2 separate regions of the Homo sapiens genome follow, and region 1 is linked to region 2. The links come from fine-mapping of genetic effects on gene expression. A gene starts in region 2. The other region holds a variant in brackets. All regions are shown on one strand. Distances are from middle to middle. Region 1 overlaps IKBIP (IKBKB interacting protein). Region 2 holds the start of SLC25A3 (solute carrier family 25 member 3).

What was found. PIP is the estimated chance that this variant, and not a neighbour inherited with it, causes the effect.
Region 1: its variant is fine-mapped to the expression of SLC25A3 in whole blood (TOPMed, PIP above 0.99).

Annotation. Positions count from the first base shown.
Region 1 is chr12:98,626,033-98,635,296 of GRCh38, forward strand. It overlaps IKBIP (IKBKB interacting protein), which reads right to left. Exons shown (of 3, transcript NM_153687.4): 2 at 8,264-8,381; 3 at 1-734. Among named protein-coding and RNA genes, the nearest start is that of IKBIP, 14 kb to the right of the region's middle. The variant C/T (reference allele first, on the strand shown) is at 4,032.
Region 2 is chr12:98,588,917-98,598,407 of GRCh38, forward strand. It overlaps SLC25A3 (solute carrier family 25 member 3), which reads left to right and starts at 4,770. Exons shown (of 8, transcript NM_002635.4): 1 at 4,770-4,824; 2 at 5,059-5,219; 3 at 6,811-6,932; 4 at 8,940-9,119. The coding sequence starts at 5,063. It also overlaps the pseudogene PPIAP8. RefSeq lists enhancers at 4,292-4,511, 4,560-5,184, 4,762-4,861, 5,185-5,809, 6,558-6,787.

The sequences.
Region 1 (9,264 bases), 37 kb after region 2:
AGAATATCCAGTTCATTTTGCATCTTTAATATGCTATTATCATACTGAATTCCTTCAAGGGTTTTCTGCATCTCCATTATTTCAGACACTGCTTTCAGCATATCATCTTCCATATTAAACATCTGCATAGTCAAGTCTTCCATTTTCTTTTCTGTTTCTATCAGATCCTGAGAGACTCTGAGAACAGAGTGAATAGCACTTTCAATTGTTGGCAAATGTGTCTTGCATTCTTCAACTTTGGGTTCGTAGTCGGAAAGTTTATTAGTCAGATCTTCATCTCTGGCAAAGAGGGCATGCTGTTCCTCTTCTAACTTTTCAATTGCCTTTGTATCAGAGCCTAGCTGCTCCTCTACTCGCAGGAGATCTTCTTCTTCTTGTCTTTTTACTGTTCTAATATTTCTTAGTGTGCTATCTTCCAAATCTTTTAGCCGTTCAGTGAGCAATTTTATTTCCTGCTCAGCTGAGTTAATTTGGACAGTTACTTGAGAATGTATATGTTTTGCTTCTGATTTGAAAATGTCTGTATTAATGTTCATTTCTTCTAGGCTTCTCTTCCAGAAATCCGTAATATTCTGAAATTTCTCATTAAGGCTTTGCATCCTTTGAGTGAGCACCTCTTCATTATTTTGAATGTCATGCATGATATCTTGGAGGTTGGATACTTCCTGCTCAAACTGGGTCATCAAAGACATGGATGATGTAGCTTCCTGCAGGATGCTTTCAGTAGACTCAAGCTGCATTTATAACACAAAACAATTCCCAAGGCTACTTAATAATTTTCATATTAGAGAAACACACTTTAACAATCAGGAGCATAACACATGCCACGTTAAAATTCTGAAGATGTCTAAAATATCCAAGTATATCAGAATCAGACTGACAAAGATATTTATTACATTAATAGTTTTCACAAATACGTTAACCCTGCATTGTTTTATTTATTTATTTATTTTTTAGACGGAATCTCACCCTGTCACCCAGGATGGAGTGCAGTGGAGCAACCTCAGCTCACTGCAACCTCCGCCTCCCAGGTTCAACGTATTCTCTTGCCTCAGCTTCCTGAGTAGCTGGGATTACAGGTACGCGCCACTATGCCTAGCTAATTTTTGTATTTTTCGTAGAGATGGGGTTTCACCATGCTGGCCAGGCTGGTCTTGAACTGTTGACCTTTAGTGATCCGTCTGCCTCGGCCTCCCAAAGTACTAGAATTACAGGCGAGAGCTGCCGCGCCTGGCCAGCACTATGTTAAAAAAAAAAAAAAATACACCTGAACACACAATCCTAGATATTTCAGCATTTCTATGGAAGCATATACAAGAGAAAAGTAATGTTAAAGTGCCTGAAATAGATGCAATTTCCTCCTTTTAACTCTAATGGTAAGTAACTTTGATGTCAGTTTTCTTTTTCTTTTTTTTTTTTTTTTTGAGACGGAGTCTCGCTCTGTCGCCCAGGCTGGAGTGCAGTGGCGTGATCTCGGCTCACTGCAAGCTCCGCCTCCCAGGTTCAAGCCATTCTCCTGCCTCAGCCTCCTGAGTAGCTGGGACTACAGGCGCCCGCCACCACACCCGGCTAATTTTTTGTATTTTTAGTAGAGACGGGGTTTCACCGTGTCAGCGAGGATGGTCTCGATCCCCTGACCTCGTGATCCGCCCACCTCAGCCTCCCAAAGTGCTGGGATTACAGGCGTGAGCCACCGCGCCCAGCCCTCGATGTCATTTTTATGGTTTTTTGGCTTTTTAGAAACTGCAACTTTGTATACAATTTGATATCTTTCCTAAAATCCTATAATTCTGGAAGGGTTTCTGCCAAAAAATTTTTTTGACCAACCTCTTGCAGAGAAAGTACTAGAATCAGGTCTTACAGATACAAAGGCAACAATGAATTAAAAAACAGTTTAGTGAGACAAGTCAAATTGAATGGTAAAGTGTTTTAAGTATTTGTAAATTATGCTAAGCCTCCGGCACCTCCTAATCTGTATCTGGAATATAGAAGGCCAAGTCATTGACCTCTTTTAGTCTACACTTAGATAACAGCTTTAGAGACTACAGGAAGGCCTAGAAATAATCATTAATTTATTATGTGCTTGCAGCATTATGCTGAAGACATAATACTGAACAAGATACAAAATACTGCCCTTAAGCAGCTTTGTTTAATCGACGAGAAAGACAAGTGTATATGCACTATGACAGGTGAAGAGCTATGGAAGCACTCAGGTGGAGACCCAACCTAGACTTCAGTGATGAAGGAAAGTATTTTAGAAAAAGTAATATCTAATATCTGCTTCCAGTTGCTTGCTCTCTAAATTAGCCTACACACTACTACTAGACTAAGCTTTTAAAAACTGGTATGCCTATCATGGTACACTGTTACAAAACCTTTGATGTTTCCTAATACTTCTAGGATAAAGTCTCAAATTCTCTAACCTCTCCCTATGCTATCCTCCTCTCCTCTTTATTTAGTTACATTGTCCTTACTTCAAGGCTCAGACCGGATCTCAGCTCCTCAGAGCAGCATTTCTTCCATAGCCCTAGCCCTGACAACCTGAATTCCTGTAGCACCTATTACACATATATTTGCCACATATTTGCCTCTTAGCACATACAATTAAAAAATTTTGAGGGTTCACTCTGTGCCAGCCTTGTGTGAGACAGTGGAGACAAATACAGCATAGTCCTTGATTTCACAATTTGATTGGGAGACAGTGTTTAGATCTTCCACATCATATATTCTAGAGTCCCAACAAGATCTACTGAGTACCCTGTGTGAGGTAGTTCCATTATCAGGTACTAGGGAAATGGAGATAAAAGATGCAGTGTATGCTCTAAAGAGGAGTAAAGGAGATAAACTAGCAACCAAAAAAATCACAGTAGATTATAAGTAGCGTCACAAAAGAATTAGCACAGGGGGCAATGGATGCTTTGAGGAGAGATAAAAAGTTAGGAGGGCAATGCGAAAAGGCCTGGAAGTGGCTCCAAAATTGGAATCATTAACAGACTGATTGATGAATTAGCAGGGTGAAGATGTGAAAGCTTCTAAATTTCAAAGGAGAAGAGACCATGTCTTATGCCTCTGTGTAATCCCTACATCTCAGAGTACAAAGAATATGTTTGTTGATGCTTAGGAAGAATGACCCTAAGCCTTCTAGGTCCACCCCAATCAAGACTTAAAGAGTATGCAACAAGAATGACTAACACCACTCTGAAATGTTGTTTAAAATTTATTTTAAGGGTTGGGCATGGTGGCTTACGCCTTAATCCCAACATGTTGGGATGCCAAGGCAGAAGGACTGCTTGAGCCTAGGAGTTTGAGACCAGCCTGGGCACAAAGCAAGACCCTGTCTCTATCAAACAAACAAACAAACAAACAAACAAACAAAATTAGTTGGGCATGGTGGTGTGCGCCTGTAGTCCCAGCTACTTGGGAGGCTGAGGTGGGAGGATTCCTTGAGCCCAAGAGTTCAGGGTTGCAGTGAGCTATGATCATGCCACTGCATTCCATCCTTGGTGACCGGGCAAGACCCTGTCTCAAACATACATACATACACACACACACATTTAAAGAAAACAAACAAAAAAATCCAAAGAAATAAAAACCTCTTTTAAATGTACACATACAGCCATAATACAAGTTCCTTTTAAAATCAATTATGAGAAATACTAACCATTAACATGGTTAGGTTTAGTTGTTTTATTAGCAGTATTTTGAAGAGGCAAGCTTATCCTCACCTAAGGTAATGTCCTGTTTAGGAGGTTCATCAGAGCCTCACTATAATCTGAAAGCAGTATACCCCAAGTAAGTGCAAGATGTTATAGATTTAATCTGCAAATATTTAGTGACTAGTATGCCACAGTAGCTAGCATTTATGGGCCACCAACATATTCTAATCGTTTTTCATTTTTATTTACTAAAAAAATTTTTTTTGTAGAGATGGGGTCTCACCATGTTGCCTGGGCTGGTCTCAAACTGCCAGGCTCAAGTGATGCTCCCAACTTAGCTTCCCAAAGTGCTGAGATTACAGGCATAAGCCACCA[C/T]ACCGGGTCTCATTTTTTCTTAAAGAAAGAGCTAGTAGGGCCAGGTGCGGTGGCTCACACCTGTAATCCCAGCACTTTGGGAGGCTGAGGCGGGTGGACCACCTGAGGTCGGGAGATTGAGACCATCCTGGCTAACACAGTGAAACCCCATGTCTACTAAAAATACAAAAAATTAGCCGGGTATGTTGGCACATGCCTGTAATCCCAGCTACTTGGGAGGCTGAGGCAGGAGAATTGCTTGAACCCAGGAGGCAGAGGTTGCAGTGACCAGATCTCCCCACTGCACTCCAGCCTGGGCAACAAGAGCCTGGGCAAAAAAAAAAAAAAAAAAAAAAAAAAAAAAAAAAAAAGAGCTAGTACTTTATTAGTGCTTGATTGTTTTCAAAGAATTTGTATATAAAGTAAGTCCTCACTTAACGTCATTGGTAGGTTCTTGGAAACTGACTTTAAGTGGAACTATTCAGAGCAGCTCCTCCAACAACGTTGTTTCGATGTCCTTTCATTACAACGTAGATGAGAAAAAAATTGGTTTCATTATACACTTCACTTAAAATCGTAGTTTCCAGGAACCTATTGATGACCAGGAACCTATTGATGACGTTGAGGACTTACTGTATATCTCATCTGATCTTTATAAAAATCTTATTATTTCTCACTTAATAAATGATGAAATAGAGATGAAGATAAGTTATAGTGATTTGTCTAAGGTCACACAGTTGGGATGGGTGTCCATGTCTAGCTGTTTTCCCCTCCATCTGGGTTATGCTGCCCTTTAGGGCCACCTTTGTGAAAAGGGACCTCTTATTAAATTACTCCCAGGGCAGAATGGGAGAAAAAGCTACGAAAAGACTGAATATTTCTTTTTTTTCTTTTCATTTTTTTTTTTGAGACGGAGTTTCGCTCTTGTTGCCCAGGCTGGAGTGCAATGGCATGATCTCGGCTCACCACAACCTCCACCTCCCAGGTTCAAGTAATTCTCCTACCTCAGCCTCCCGAGTAGCTGGGATTACAGGCATGCACCATCATGCCCAGGTAATTTTTTGTACTTTTAGTAGAGATGGGGTTTTTCCATGTTGGTCAGGCTGGTCCTGAACTTCTGACCTCAGGTGATCCACCTGCCTTGGCCTCCCAAAGTGCTGGGATTACAGGTGTGAGCCACCACGCCTGGCCAAGACTGAATATTTTTTGGATTCTATAATGATATTTTAAAAATCTGCTTCAAAAGCTTTTTTTTTGAGATGGAGTCTCACTTTGTTGCCCAGGCTGGAGTGCAGTGGTGCAATCTCGGCTCACTGTGACCTCTGCCTCCCCGGTTTAAGCGATTCTCCTGCCTCAGCCTCCTGAGTAGCTGGGACTACAGACACACGCTACCATGCCCAGCTAATTTTTGTGTTTTTAGTAGAGATGGGGTTTCATCATGTTGGCCAGGCTGGTCTTGAACTCCTGACCTCAGGTGATCCACCCACCTCGGCCCCTCAAAGTGCTGGGATTACAGGTGTGAACCACCGTGCCCAGCCTGGCCAACATGGTGAAACCCCGTCTCTACCAAAAATACAAAAATTAGACGGGTGTGGTGGTACACACCTGTAGTCCCAGCTACTCGGGAGGCTGAGGCAGGAGAATCACTTGAACCCGGGAGGCGGAGGTTGCAGTGAGACAAGATCGAGCCATTGTACTCCAGCCTGGATGAGAAAAGTGAAACTCTGTACCACCCCTGACCTCCCCCACAAAAAAAAAAAGAAAAAAAAAAAGGAGAAATCTTGTTCAAAATAAGTTTTCAATAGCTTTTATTTATATTTATTTATTTATTGAGATGGAGTCTCACTCTGTTGCCCAGGCTGGAGCACAATGGCGTGATCTCAGCTCACTGCAATCTCCACCTCCCAGGTTCAAGTGATTCTCCTGCCTCAGCCTCCCGAGTAGCTGGGATTACAGGCGCCCGCCACCACGCCCAGCTAATTTTTGTATTTTTAGTAGAGATGGGGTTTCACCATGTTGGCCAGGCTGATCTCAAACTCCTGACCTCGTGATCTGCCTGCTTCGGCCTCCCAGTGTGCTGGGATTACAGGCGTGAGCCACCGCGTCCGGCCTTCAATAGCTTTTAATTAAATATGTGAAGTTTTGGCAAGGCACAGTGGCTCACACTTGTAATATCAATTCTTTGGGAGGCAGAGGCAGAAAGGTCATTTGAGGCCAGGAGTTTGATACCAGCCTGGGCAATGTAGCAAGACCCCGTCTCTCCAAAAAATTAAAGAAAAAAAAATTAGCTGGGTGCAGTGGCGTGCCTGTTAGTCCCAGTTACTTGGGAGGCTGAGTTGGGAGGAGTGCTTGAGCCTGGGAGGTTGAGCTGTTATTCCAACACTGCACTCCAGCCTGGATGACAGAGTGAGAGCTGGGATGACAGGGAGAGACTCTATCTGAAAAAAAAAAAAAAAAAAAAAAAAAAAAAATATATATATATATATATATATATATATATATATATGAAGTTTCTTGCCCCTGGGATTTCTTCTAATGGTATGTTAGAGTTCCCCCAACAGCTACAACCAGATTCCAATTTTTTTTTTTTTTTTTTTGGGACAGAGTCTCACTCTGTTGCCCAGGCTGGAGTGCAGTGGTATGATCTCAGCTCACTTCTGAAACCTCTGCCTCCCAGGTTCAAGCAATTCTCATACATCAGCCTCCCAAGTAGCTGGGATTACAGGCATGAACCACCATGCTCAGCTAATATTTTTGTATTTTTAGTAGAGACAGGGTTTCGCCATGTTGGCCAATCTGGTCTCGAACTCCTGACCTCAAGGTGATCCGCCTGCCTTGGCCTCCCAAAGTGCTGGGATTACAGGCATGAGCCACTACGCCTGGCTCAGATTCCAATTTGAGCCCTATGTGAAAATACCAACTCCTTTGCAGCTCCTTCCCCAAATCCCTTACACTCACCATCCATGGAATCCCCTGGCATTTGTGAGGGATACTTAATTTTCCTCCATGGCTTTTCTCTTCTGGAGGATTATATGCTCATCCTGTGCATGGGGCTGCAGGGACTTAGATGCTCCATTTCATCTCTATTTTTACAACATCCTTACCCACCCTGGTGCCAAGCATAGGTCCTTGCTTACCTTGTGACATGAGCAAAGGTTTAGTGAATGAATAAATGAACAAAAAGCCATATTTCCCAATGATAGCTTGGTCCCTGGTACCCAGAATAGGCCTACATGATGCCTTATTGATCACAGCTGACTTTGACTTTCTCCTGAGAGGTGTGGGAGTTACAAAAATGTTTATTTGTCTCACATTTCTAAGAATCACAGTAATAACGCATCTGGTAGAAATCAGCAACTTGAAGGAACACAATATAGACATGGTATTATTTTAATTTTCATTGGAATTCTTATTTGGCTACAGGACAAATAGTTACTTTTAGGCTAGCCGTTCTTTTTTTTTTAATTCTTTTTTTTTTTTTTTTTTTTTTTTGAGACGGATCCTCGCTCTATAGCCCAGGCTACAGTGCAGTGGTGTGATCTTGGCTCACTGCAACCTCCACCTCCCAGGTTCAAGAGATTCTTCTGTCTCAGCCCCCCGAGTAGCTGGGATTACAGGCGTGTGCACCACGCCCAGCTAATTTTTGTATTTTTACTAGAGATGGGGTTTCACCATGTTGGCCAGGCTGGTCTCCTAACTCCTGACCTCAAGTGATTTGCCTGGCTCAGCCTCCCACAGTGCTGGGATTAAAGGCATGAGCCACTACTCCCAGCCTAGGCTAGCCATTCTTAAATGCATGTACATATATCCTTAAAAAGCAAAAAGTAAGGGAAAAAATGGATAGATCTTTTCCCAATAAGTGCTATTCATATTCTAATTTTATGTCCAAAGATCAACCATATTTTCAGATGAGATCGAGCGCATTCAGGGTGGTATGGCTGTAGACATGATCAACCATATTTTCAATGCTCTAGATACCTGACACTTAAGTAGAAAATTAACATCATGCTAATATGAACAAATTGGTCTTTTTCAATACTAGAAATTATCATATTAAAAAATCCTTGCCCCTCAAAATGCAATCTGAGTCAAAATGGCTCAGAGGGAGAATGTCAAGAGGTAGGAAGATCAGTGAGAGTTAAAATAGTGATGGTCTAAAAGGCAGGAAGAAAGAAGTTCTGAGCTGGGATAGAGAAATGATAGTGGGGTAGTAAAATGGGAAAACCGTCCCAGATAAGCCAATTAATGATTACCTTTTCTGAAATTAAACTGATTTTACTTTGAAGTTGTTGGAATTCATTGGTTTCTAGTTTCAGTAACTGGTATTGGTTTTCCACCTTTGCAAATTTTTCTGACTGCTGAAATACAAACCTGGAAAAGAAAAGAAAAATCACTATTCTCCAATTCATATCCATTTAAATCCGAATTTCAAAGGAGAATTATACCCACTTCTGTTAAGAACAACATAAATTCTGGTATGGGTAGCTGTAGGTTTTTTTTTTTTTTTTTTCACACAGGGTCTCACTCTGTCACCCAGGCTGGAATGCAGTGTCACAATCATAGCTCACTGCAGCCTTGAACTCCTGGGCTCAAGTGATCCTCTTACTTCAACCTCCCAAATAGCTAGGACTGTCCATCTCGCTATGTTGCCAAAGGTGGTCTTTAGCCTTTTTTTTTTTTTTTTTGAGATGGAGTCTCACTCTGTCGCCCAGGCTGGAGTGCAGTGGCGCGATCTAGGCTCACTGCAAGCTCCGCCTCCTGGGTTCACGCTATTCTCCTGCCTCAGCCTCCCGAGTAGCTACGACTACAGGCGCCTGCCACCACGCCTGGCTAATTTTTTGTATTTTTAGTAAAGACGGGGTTTCACTGTGTTAGCCAGGATGCTCTCGATCTCCTGACCTTGTGATCCACCTGCCTTGGCCTCCCAAAGTGCTGGGATTACAGGCGTGAGCCACCACGCCCGGTATTTTTTTTTTTTTTTAGATGGAGTTTTGCTCTTGTTGCCCAGGCTGGAGTGCAATGGCACGATCTCGGTTCACTGCAACCTTTGCCTCCTGGGTTCAAGCGATTCTCCTCCTCAGCCTCCCAAGTAGCTGGGATTAAAGGCACCTGCCACCACGCCCCACCAATTTTTTAATATTTTTAGTAGAGATGGGGTTTCACCATGTTGGCTAGGCTGGTTTTGAACTCCTGACCAGTGATCTGCCCGCCTTGGCCTCCCAAAGTGCTAGGATTACAGGCATGAGCCACTGTG
Region 2 (9,491 bases):
AAGCAGATGCTTTGGATTGGTTTGCTTCTTCTAATTATGTTGGATAACTGGGGGAAAGAAAATGATAACTTAGGGCTTTAACTTCTCAGTTCAACATCAGATAAAGGACCAGAAAGCCTTGACTGCTTTGTTTGTTTTTTGAGATGGAGTCTCGCTCTGTTGCCCAGGCTGGAGTGTGATAGTGTGATCTCGGCTCACTGCAACCTCTGCCAGCCTCCTGGCTTCAAGCGATTCTCCTGCCTCAGCCTCCTGAGTAGCTGGTACCACAGCCGCGCGCCACCACGCCCAGCTAATTTTTGTATTTTTAGTAGAGACAGGGTTTCACCGTCTTGGCCAGGCTGGTCTTGAACTCCTGACCTTGTGATCGTCCACCTTGGCCTCCCAAAGTGCTGAGATTACAGGCATGAGCCACCGCACCTGGTCGCCTTGACTGCTTTGCTGTATCTGCAAGACTGTACTTTCTAAAAATCAAACTCAAAATCTAATTCTGAATTACAATGCAAATTGAATTCCCAATCTCATAGTGTTTAAAGTTAGGGCAATGTTTTGAGACCCAAAATTTTGGAATAGTGACACCTGGGCAGATTATGATTCCACTAGGACCATGAACCCCCATATTCTTTTTTTTTTTCTTTTTTGAGACAAGATCTCTAACTGTTGCTTAGGCTGGAGTACAATGGCGCGATCTCGGCTCACTGCTACCTCTGCTTCCCAGGCTCAAGTGATCCTCCCTCCTCAGCCTCTTGCGTAGCTGGGACTGCAGGGGCATGCCACTATGCCTGGCTTTTTTTTTTTTTTTTTTTTAAGAGACAGGGTTTCACCATGTTGTCCAGGCTGGTTTTTAACTCCTGGACTCAAGAGATCCACCTACCTCGGCTTCCCAAAGTTCTGGGATTATAGGCGTGAGCCACCATGCCCAGCCAGAACCCCTAAATTCTGTTGAGCCTCCTTGTCAGTCAAAGAAGCCCTTCCTCTCCTGTCTGAGGAGGTTATGTTCCTCGTCCCTGTGAAATCTGTAATGGCCTCACCTGAGGTGGTTGCCTGGCGGGATCTGCTGATTCTTCTTAAAACCTACTGTCCACTTTGGGAGGCCGAGGCAGGTGGATCACCTGAGGTTGGGAGTTCGAGACCAGACTGACCAACATGGAGAAACCCCATCTCTACTAAAAATACAAAATTAGCCGGGCATGGTGGCGCGTGCCTGTAATCCCAGCTACTCCGGAGGCTGAGGCAGGAGAATTGCTTGAACCCGGGAGGCAGATTTGAATCTCCACAGTGGAGAGTTATGGTCCTTCAGGCAATTTCCCTACTTGTGTCAGGTTGGAGGCCGAGAGCCTCTTGAATGTTAAGGAGGCCAACCCCCTTGTCTTAGTCCATACCTGCTGCAATAACATCACCTAAAGACGGATAAAAGGATTTTGTATCCTCTTTTGGGTAGAATTAGCTTGTTCACAATTGTCCAAGGGACAGCTGCTTCATGTTAGGTAGAAGTCTGATTTTGCTCTTTAGTTTTTGTCTGGAAGTTAAATATGATTACAAGAGGTGTTCATTGATGCCATGTTGACAACCGATAGACTCTGGTACTTTTTTTGTTGCTGTTGTTAATTAGTTTTTATTTCATAATCATAAACTTAACTCTGCAATCTAGCTAGGCATGGAAAGGAACAAGGAAAACATAGAACCCAAAGGGAACTGCAGTGAGAGCACAAAGATTCTAGGATACTGCGAGCAAATGGGGTGGAGGGTGCTCTCCTGAGCTACAGAAGGAATGGTCTGGTGGTTAAGATAAAACACAAGTCAAACTTATTAGAGTTGCCCACAGTCAGCAATGGTGATCTTCTTACTGGTCTTGCCATTCCTGGACCCAAAGCACTCCATGGTCTCCACAATATTCATGCCTTCTTTCACCTTGCTGAAGACCACATGCTTGCCATCCAACCACTCAGTCTTGGCAGCACAGATGAAAAACTGGGAACTGTTTGCGTTGGGTCCAGCATTTGCCATGGACAAGATGCCAGAAACTGTATGCTTCCGGATGAAGTTCTTGTCATCAAATTTCTCCCTGTAGATGGACTTGCCACCAGTGCCATCATGGCATGTGAAGTCTCCACCCTGACACATAAACCCTGGAACAATTCTGTGAAAGCAGGAACCCTTATAGCCAAATCCTTTCTCTCCAGTGCTCAGAGCATGAAAGTTTCCTGCTGTCTTTGGAAACTTGTCTGCAAACAGCTCAAAGGAGATGCGGCCCAAGGGCTCCGTGTCAAAGAACACGGTGGGGTTGACCATGGCTGATAGCACAGGGCTCCTGGCAGCAGCGGTGCCTGCAAAGCCCAGTGGTGTTTTTTTTACCATGTCAACTTAGCTAGGCTAGAACCACATTTCCTAGATTCCTTTCCCTGCATAGTTTTGGGTTAGGGCTAGCTATAAGAGAAATGTGTGCAGTTTGGAAGGCAGAAGTGGAGCAACAGTCATTACATTCTGAAGGTCACCAGCTCCCACATGGGGTAGGAGCTGGGCCTGCAGCTCCTTCAGTTACCACTGTATCTTCTAGATCAACTTCTGTGAGTTCTGGGCCACGAGCATGTGCAGCCCCATGGTGAAGGGTACCAGCTGTTCCAGCTGAAAAAATGTGCAGCAAAGGGTCACGGTATTACCCGGTGCTGGGGGAAGGGAATAGGAAGATTCACTACAGTCATATATTTTTACATAATATTTGACTTTTTCATGACAAAGGATTTTTAAATTAGAAAAGCACCATAAAGTTGAATTAACCAAAAAAGAGAGAGAGAAAGTCCAGACCCTTCAGTGACTACCTCTGTCTACATAAGATCAGACTCCTCAGTCTGGTATGTGAGGCCCTGGACAATCAGGTGCTAGTGTACTTTTTTAACTTTATCTGTCACTACTTCCCTTCCTGTGCCCTCCACTCTGGAATTCTTCCTGGGACTGTAGGACTTTAGTTGGGCCAGAAGGGCTGGGTCTGGGATAGGGTTGCTTAGAGAGTGCCGTGATGCCGCAGCCTCAATGCTAACTTTTGTTTTTTTGTTTTTTTTTTTTTTTGAGACGGAGTCTTGCTCTGTCGCCCAGGCTGGAGTGCAGTGGCATGATCTCGGCTCACTGCAAGCTCTGCCTCCTGGGTTCACGCCATTCTCCTGCCTCAGTCTCCTCAGTAGCTGGGACTACAGGCGCCCGCCACCTCGCCCGGCTAATTTTTTGTATTTTTAGTAGAGACGGGGTTTCACCGTGTTAGCCAGGATGGTCTCGATCTCCTGACCCCGTGATCTGCCCGCCTCGGCCTCCCAAAGTGCTGGGATTACAGGCGTGAGCCACCTCGCCCGGCCAATGCTAACTTTTTTTAGGTAACATCTTCTGTAGACTTTTAGACATTATCTCATTGAGTTCTCATAGACTCTGCAAGGTAAGTATTACTCCCATCCAGAACCAGACACCTGATTTGCAGGGTCCAGTGCAAACTAAAAAAAGCGTGGCCCCTTGTTCATACATGTATTAAGAATTTCAAGCCGGGCATGGTGGCTCAGGCCTGTAATCCCAGCACATTGGGAGGCCGAGGTGGGCGGATCACCTGAGCTCAGGAGTTCGAGACCAGACTGGCCAACGTGACGAAACTCTGTCTCTACTAAAAATAGAAAACTTAGCCGGGCGTGGTTGTGCACGCCTGTAGTCCCAGCTACTCCGGGGGCTGAGACAGGAGAATCGCTTGAACCCGGGAGGCGGAGGTTGCGGTGAGCTGAGATCGCCCCACTGCACTCCAGCCTGGGCGACAGAGCAAGACTCCATCTCAAAAGAAAAAAAAAAAAAATCAAAATGACAGCAGAGCATTAAATGAAGTGTAAGGCCATGTGTGACTGTACCAGTGTGAACCTATGAGGCCAGTCCCACCCCTATCTTACATCTAGGGAACAGGTACACAGAGATGAAGTAAATTCCCAAGGTTACTTTGTCAAGAGCTTGGAAAATATAAGAGTCAGAAGTCTAACAGGTTGAATCCCTATTAAACTCTCCCCAACTAAACTACGCCCCTCCCTGTTGAGCTGAATCTAATGAAAGCTTCCTAAATGTATTAACCACACACACGCACAATCTGCTATCAGTCACTTTCAGTAGTTCATCGCTGTAACATCTCAGGAGTTCAATGTTTCAACGTGTTCTGTAGATTACTGTGATAACGCGGCAAGCTGTCGTAAGACTTCTTGCTGCACATTTCTTTTTAAAATATTCTCCAGGAGTCTGATGAAAAATACAGACATACCTATGTTTAATGTCAATGGATGGAACTTATTTTAAAAAGTACTGTAATGGCAGAAGTTGTGACACAAAGTACTGCAGTGATGTTGTAACTCCAACACCTAAATATATTATCAAGCATTCGCGTTTTGTTTTGTTTTTTAAGTGACTACTAGATACTGTGATTCACTTAAGTGAAGCGAACTGAAGCCCGTGGTCAAGGAGAGACACCTGAAGGTGAAGGGACAAAGCGAGCAGGGTAAGAGCTCGAGCCCGACCCCTCTCAAAAAATATAGACCCGGAACGCGCGCCTGCGCAGAACGAATCCTCCCGCGCACAAGCCGGGCGGAAGAGCTGGGGCGGGCAGGGGCGGGAATAAGGTTGCTAGGAGAACGCGATGACGCTACGGGCTCGGCGCTCTTCTCCACCAATGGGCGACGCGTACTTGCAGTGGCGCGCTGTGTGCGTCACGCCGACGACGCGCGAAGGGCACACATCTTAGGACCCGGAGGACGTCCGGCCTCTGTGAGCCGCAACCTTTCCAAGGGAGTGGTTGTGTGATCGCCATCTTAGGGAGTGAGTGTGGCCGGGCCTTCTCCTGTGGCGGGTGTGGGGAGCGGAGCCCAGAGCTCCTGTGGGGCCGCTGCTTTGGCGGTGGGCCCAGCCGGGAGCAGCCTCTTTCGAAGGCCGCCGTGACCTCTTCAAGGGCGTGGAGACGGGAAGGAAAAGGCCCCGGTTGGGGTTCCAGGGCGCCGGTAACGTTAACCGGCGCCTTGCCTGTCCTCTAACCGTCGCTCCCTCCTCCCCTAGAAAGATGTTCTCGTCCGTGGCGCACCTGGCGCGGGCGAACCCCTTCAACACGCCACATCTGCAGCTGGTGCACGATGGTCTCGGGGACCTCCGCAGCAGCTCCCCAGGGCCCACGGGCCAGCCCCGCCGCCCTCGCAACCTGGCAGCCGCCGCCGTGGAAGGTGAGATCAGACCCTGCCCAATACAGTCGTGTGGTCTACTTGTGGGCCGCCCAGCCTTTGAGGCCTGGACCCGGCTTGGAGGACAGGGAAGGACGAGTCCAGCCCGCTGCACCGTAGGACGGCGCCCAGTTGCTTGCCCTGGGGTATCGGCCTTTTCCACCATAGGCGGGTGTCAGATCCTTGGCCTTCCCTCAAGGGCGTGGAAGCGCTGAGGCCCTGTGTCCCTTCGTGACCTCCGTGTGCCCGAGGGAAGAGAGGCCGTGACTAGCTCTTTCTCCGCCGTGAGCTCGCTTGGTCAGCAAACTAAGTACTGGGTAAACTCTCCTCCCGAAACTACTGACCACCCACAGTTCTACTAACTATATTACCTGTCCTTTGATTTGCCCTTAGTTTTCTTAAAAATAGTCCTTTCCTAAGTTTTATATTTGTCGACGCCAGGTCAGTCATTTTTGCACTTAATTGTATATGAGATAACTAGATGTCCTGTTTTCGTGCGACTGGAGGAGGCAGCTTGCAGCCCTACATAGGCAATAGAAAGGAGATAATTGGTGGGCGTCCCTTTGGTGTGATTATCTCTTGGGATTCTTGGTGGTTGGGCCCAGCTTTAACTTAGTTGTGTGTGTTTTAAATCCTAGTGAAGTATGTACATACAGAGAAACCTGAAAACCGAATTGTAGGAGTCCTAAGAATGTTATCTACCTTGTGCCTGTAAAATCGAAAGATTTTTTTCTTTAAATCATTCATGTGCTTCTGTTGTCTTTAGTATGGATAGAGTCCTTATTTACACTATCTGTCGTTCAGTTTAAAAGTTAAAGCTAACATTATTTGTGTATTAAATGTATTTGACTGCAGGAATTTGTGCGTATCCGTTTTTATGTTACAGGAGTTCTTAAGTGGGGATAGTATTGGTTAGTGGCTGGGATAAACTTTGAAGTTGTTTGCAAGCCTTTTACATGTCGAGTGATCTTTCTGAGTTTCGTTTGTACTCTGAAGTGTGCTCTTACCAGTGGTTAATAATTTGAAGTTTGACTTTAATTGTAAAAGCCGTTAATGTAGAAAACTTTTAAAAAAATTAATATGGCAGAATACGAGCTATTAATAGTATCAGATACAGAACCCTCATAATTTTTAAATGATCTGAATTTGGCAGTGAATTTTTTTTTAAGCCACTTAATTGTGGCCAAAGCTATTCAGCTGTGATAATAGTATCTCACAGGGAAACATTTTCTTTCATTCCAGTGGCCTTAGTCATCTCTGAAGAAATACTTACTTGATTTTTTTTTTTCCAATCAAACAGAGCAGTATAGCTGTGACTATGGATCTGGCAGATTCTTTATCCTTTGTGGACTTGGAGGAATTATTAGCTGTGGCACAACACATACAGCATTGGTTCCTCTAGATCTGGTTAAATGCAGAATGCAGGTTTGTTTTGCATGCTGGACTAGAGCATATTGAAGCATGACTGACTGTTAAGTTATAAGATATAGTCATCTAACAAGCTGTGTGGAAACCTAACTGTCCAGGAGGTAAGTTTATGACCAGTAACATGAGTTTTATATTAAAATGCATGGTGTGTCTTCTCTTACTACAGAGTACAGTTGTGAATTTGGCTCCGCGAAGTATTATGCACTGTGTGGCTTTGGTGGGGTCTTAAGTTGTGGTCTGACACACACTGCTGTGGTTCCCCTGGATTTAGTGAAATGCCGTATGCAGGTTTGTATTGAGATGACAACATTGAAAGTATCTCTCATGTGACTTAACTCTAAATAAAATCTTAAATGAGAATTTGAAGACATCACAACTGCTAGAAACTTCAGTAGGAAACCACATAGAATTTCTTTAAATTGTGGGCTTTATTTTGACTAGTGTTTTAAATCCAATAAATGCCTCTATTGTTTGAGTAAATTGTTCACTTTTAGAGTCTGGCTGTAAATGGCTCTTTGCTGCTGCTCTTCACTTCTGGCCGGAGTTCTTCAAGCTTACTAGTGCCCCAAATAGTCATTTAACAAGCACCTATGTGTTGGAGTGGGTAAACAAGTCTGTGTATTATGTGAAGTAACAATGTCCTTTATCTACTAATAAGACCAAGGCAAAGAGTACATGTAGATTTATTTAAAGTGCTCTTAATATCTTAGTATGAAAATTTTGTCAGATTAGCCTCTTGTTTATTTACACAACATTTTAAAATAATTTGAATATATTTTAATTAAGATCATTGAAACAAAAACAAGACATCGAAAATTTATTTGTTCCAAACTGGATTAGAAGTCTACTTACCTAAAAGAGAAATGAATTTGAAATATTAGGAGGGAGAGGAAGGTGATGTATACCATCCCTTCTAGTACTGGCAGAAATAGATAAGCTTTTCCTCCCCCCCCATTAGTTAATGTAATGGATATGAAATGTACCTTTGCTAAAACGTGTTATGCATGTCTCTTGAAGTGAATTTAGTTTATGTGCTTTTTTTTTTTAACTTGTGTTTAGTTTGTTTAGTGTTCACAAAACTTTATGCTATAAGCTACTTAAAGAACTAGCATATGTTAGGAATACAGTTATATCTATTATCTAGACAGTAGCTTTTAAAAAGTAGGAGGTGGGCCAAGCATGGTCGCCCACACCTGGAATGCCAGCATTTTGGGTAGCCGAAGCAGGTGGGTCACTTGAGGTCAGGAGTTCGAGATCAGAACTCAATCTAGCCAACATGGTGAAACCTCATCTCTGCTAAAAATACAAAAATTAGCTGGGCATGGTGGCGTGCCTGTAGTCGCAGCTACTCGGGAGGCTGAGGCAGGAGAATCGCTTGAACCTGGGAGGTGGAGGTTGCAGTGAGCTGAGATCACACCATGGCACTCCATCCTGGGCTACAGAGCAAGACTCAAAAAACAAACAAACAAAAAACACAAAAAAAGTAGTAGGAGTTGGGTGGTAAGAAATCTGTTAAGAATCAGTTTTGTTACGTATTTTTGTTGAAATTTTACCCTCTTAACTATCACTCCAAGACTTAAGTTTGACACAGAAAGCTTTTGTTGAAATTTTACCCTCTTAACTATCACTCCAAGACTTAGGTTTGACACAGAAAGCTAGACCTTAATGTACAACAGTTTCTATTTATAAAAGTAATCAAATGAACAATAATAAACAGTGATAAGCATAAACTAATAAAAGTTATATGAATGTAGTTCCTCACTCAAAATATCTTAATATTTTCAGATGTCAGTTGACCTTGGATAACTGAAGCCACAGAAAATGAACTCTTGGATAAGGGAGAGCTACTGTATTTCTTTTTTTTTTTTTGAGATGGAGTCTTGCTCTGCTGCCCAGGCTGGAGTGTAGTGGTGCCATCGTGGCTCACTGCAACCTCCACCTCCCTCCCTCAGGCTCAAGCGATTGTTCTGTCTCACCCTCACCCTCCCGAGTAGCTGGGATTACAGGTGCACGCCACCATGCCCGTCCAATTTTTTGTATTTTAGTAGAGATGGGGTTTCACTGTGTTGCCCAGGCTGGTCTTGAACTCCTGAGCTCAGGTAATCCACCTGCCTCAGCCTCCCAAAGTGCTGGGATTACAGATGTGAGCCACCGTGCCTGGCAGGAATTACTGTAGTTACCTTTTGTGTAGTTGCTGAAATTTATTATGGAACCCAAACAAAAATAATCATGAGATTAAATTTTTATGTTAGCTGTTTGGTGCATTTAATTTTTTTTTTCTTGTTTTAAATAAAGGTGGACCCCCAAAAGTACAAGGGCATATTTAACGGATTCTCAGTTACACTTAAAGAGGATGGTGTTCGTGGTTTGGCTAAAGGATGGGCTCCGACTTTCCTTGGCTACTCCATGCAGGGACTCTGCAAGTTTGGCTTTTATGAAGTCTTTAAAGTCTTGTATAGCAATATGCTTGGAGAGGTATGTAATTAACTTTAAAATTGAATGTTCCGAGTGTTTAAGACTTTCCGAGTGTTCTTAGATTTTTGTCTGTCTTGCCTTATTTTAGCACTGAAGAAAATGGTCCTACAAAGTGAGCAACTTGTTTTAAATCGTATGCCTGTGTCAGCAGAGACAGGTTGATAAATGTATTTCATTAAATTACAATTCTCCTTTTAATATACTATCTTGTTTTCTAAGTAAGTTGGATTTTGAGTTTTTTAGAGAAGGGCTCTGGGACTCCTTTGCGTAGTTCCGGGGCATGGCATCTAGATATTTTTTGAATATTCATGTTGTTCACATAGTTACGTGTTTTGTTAATGAGGTTATGAGACCACATATATATTCCATATC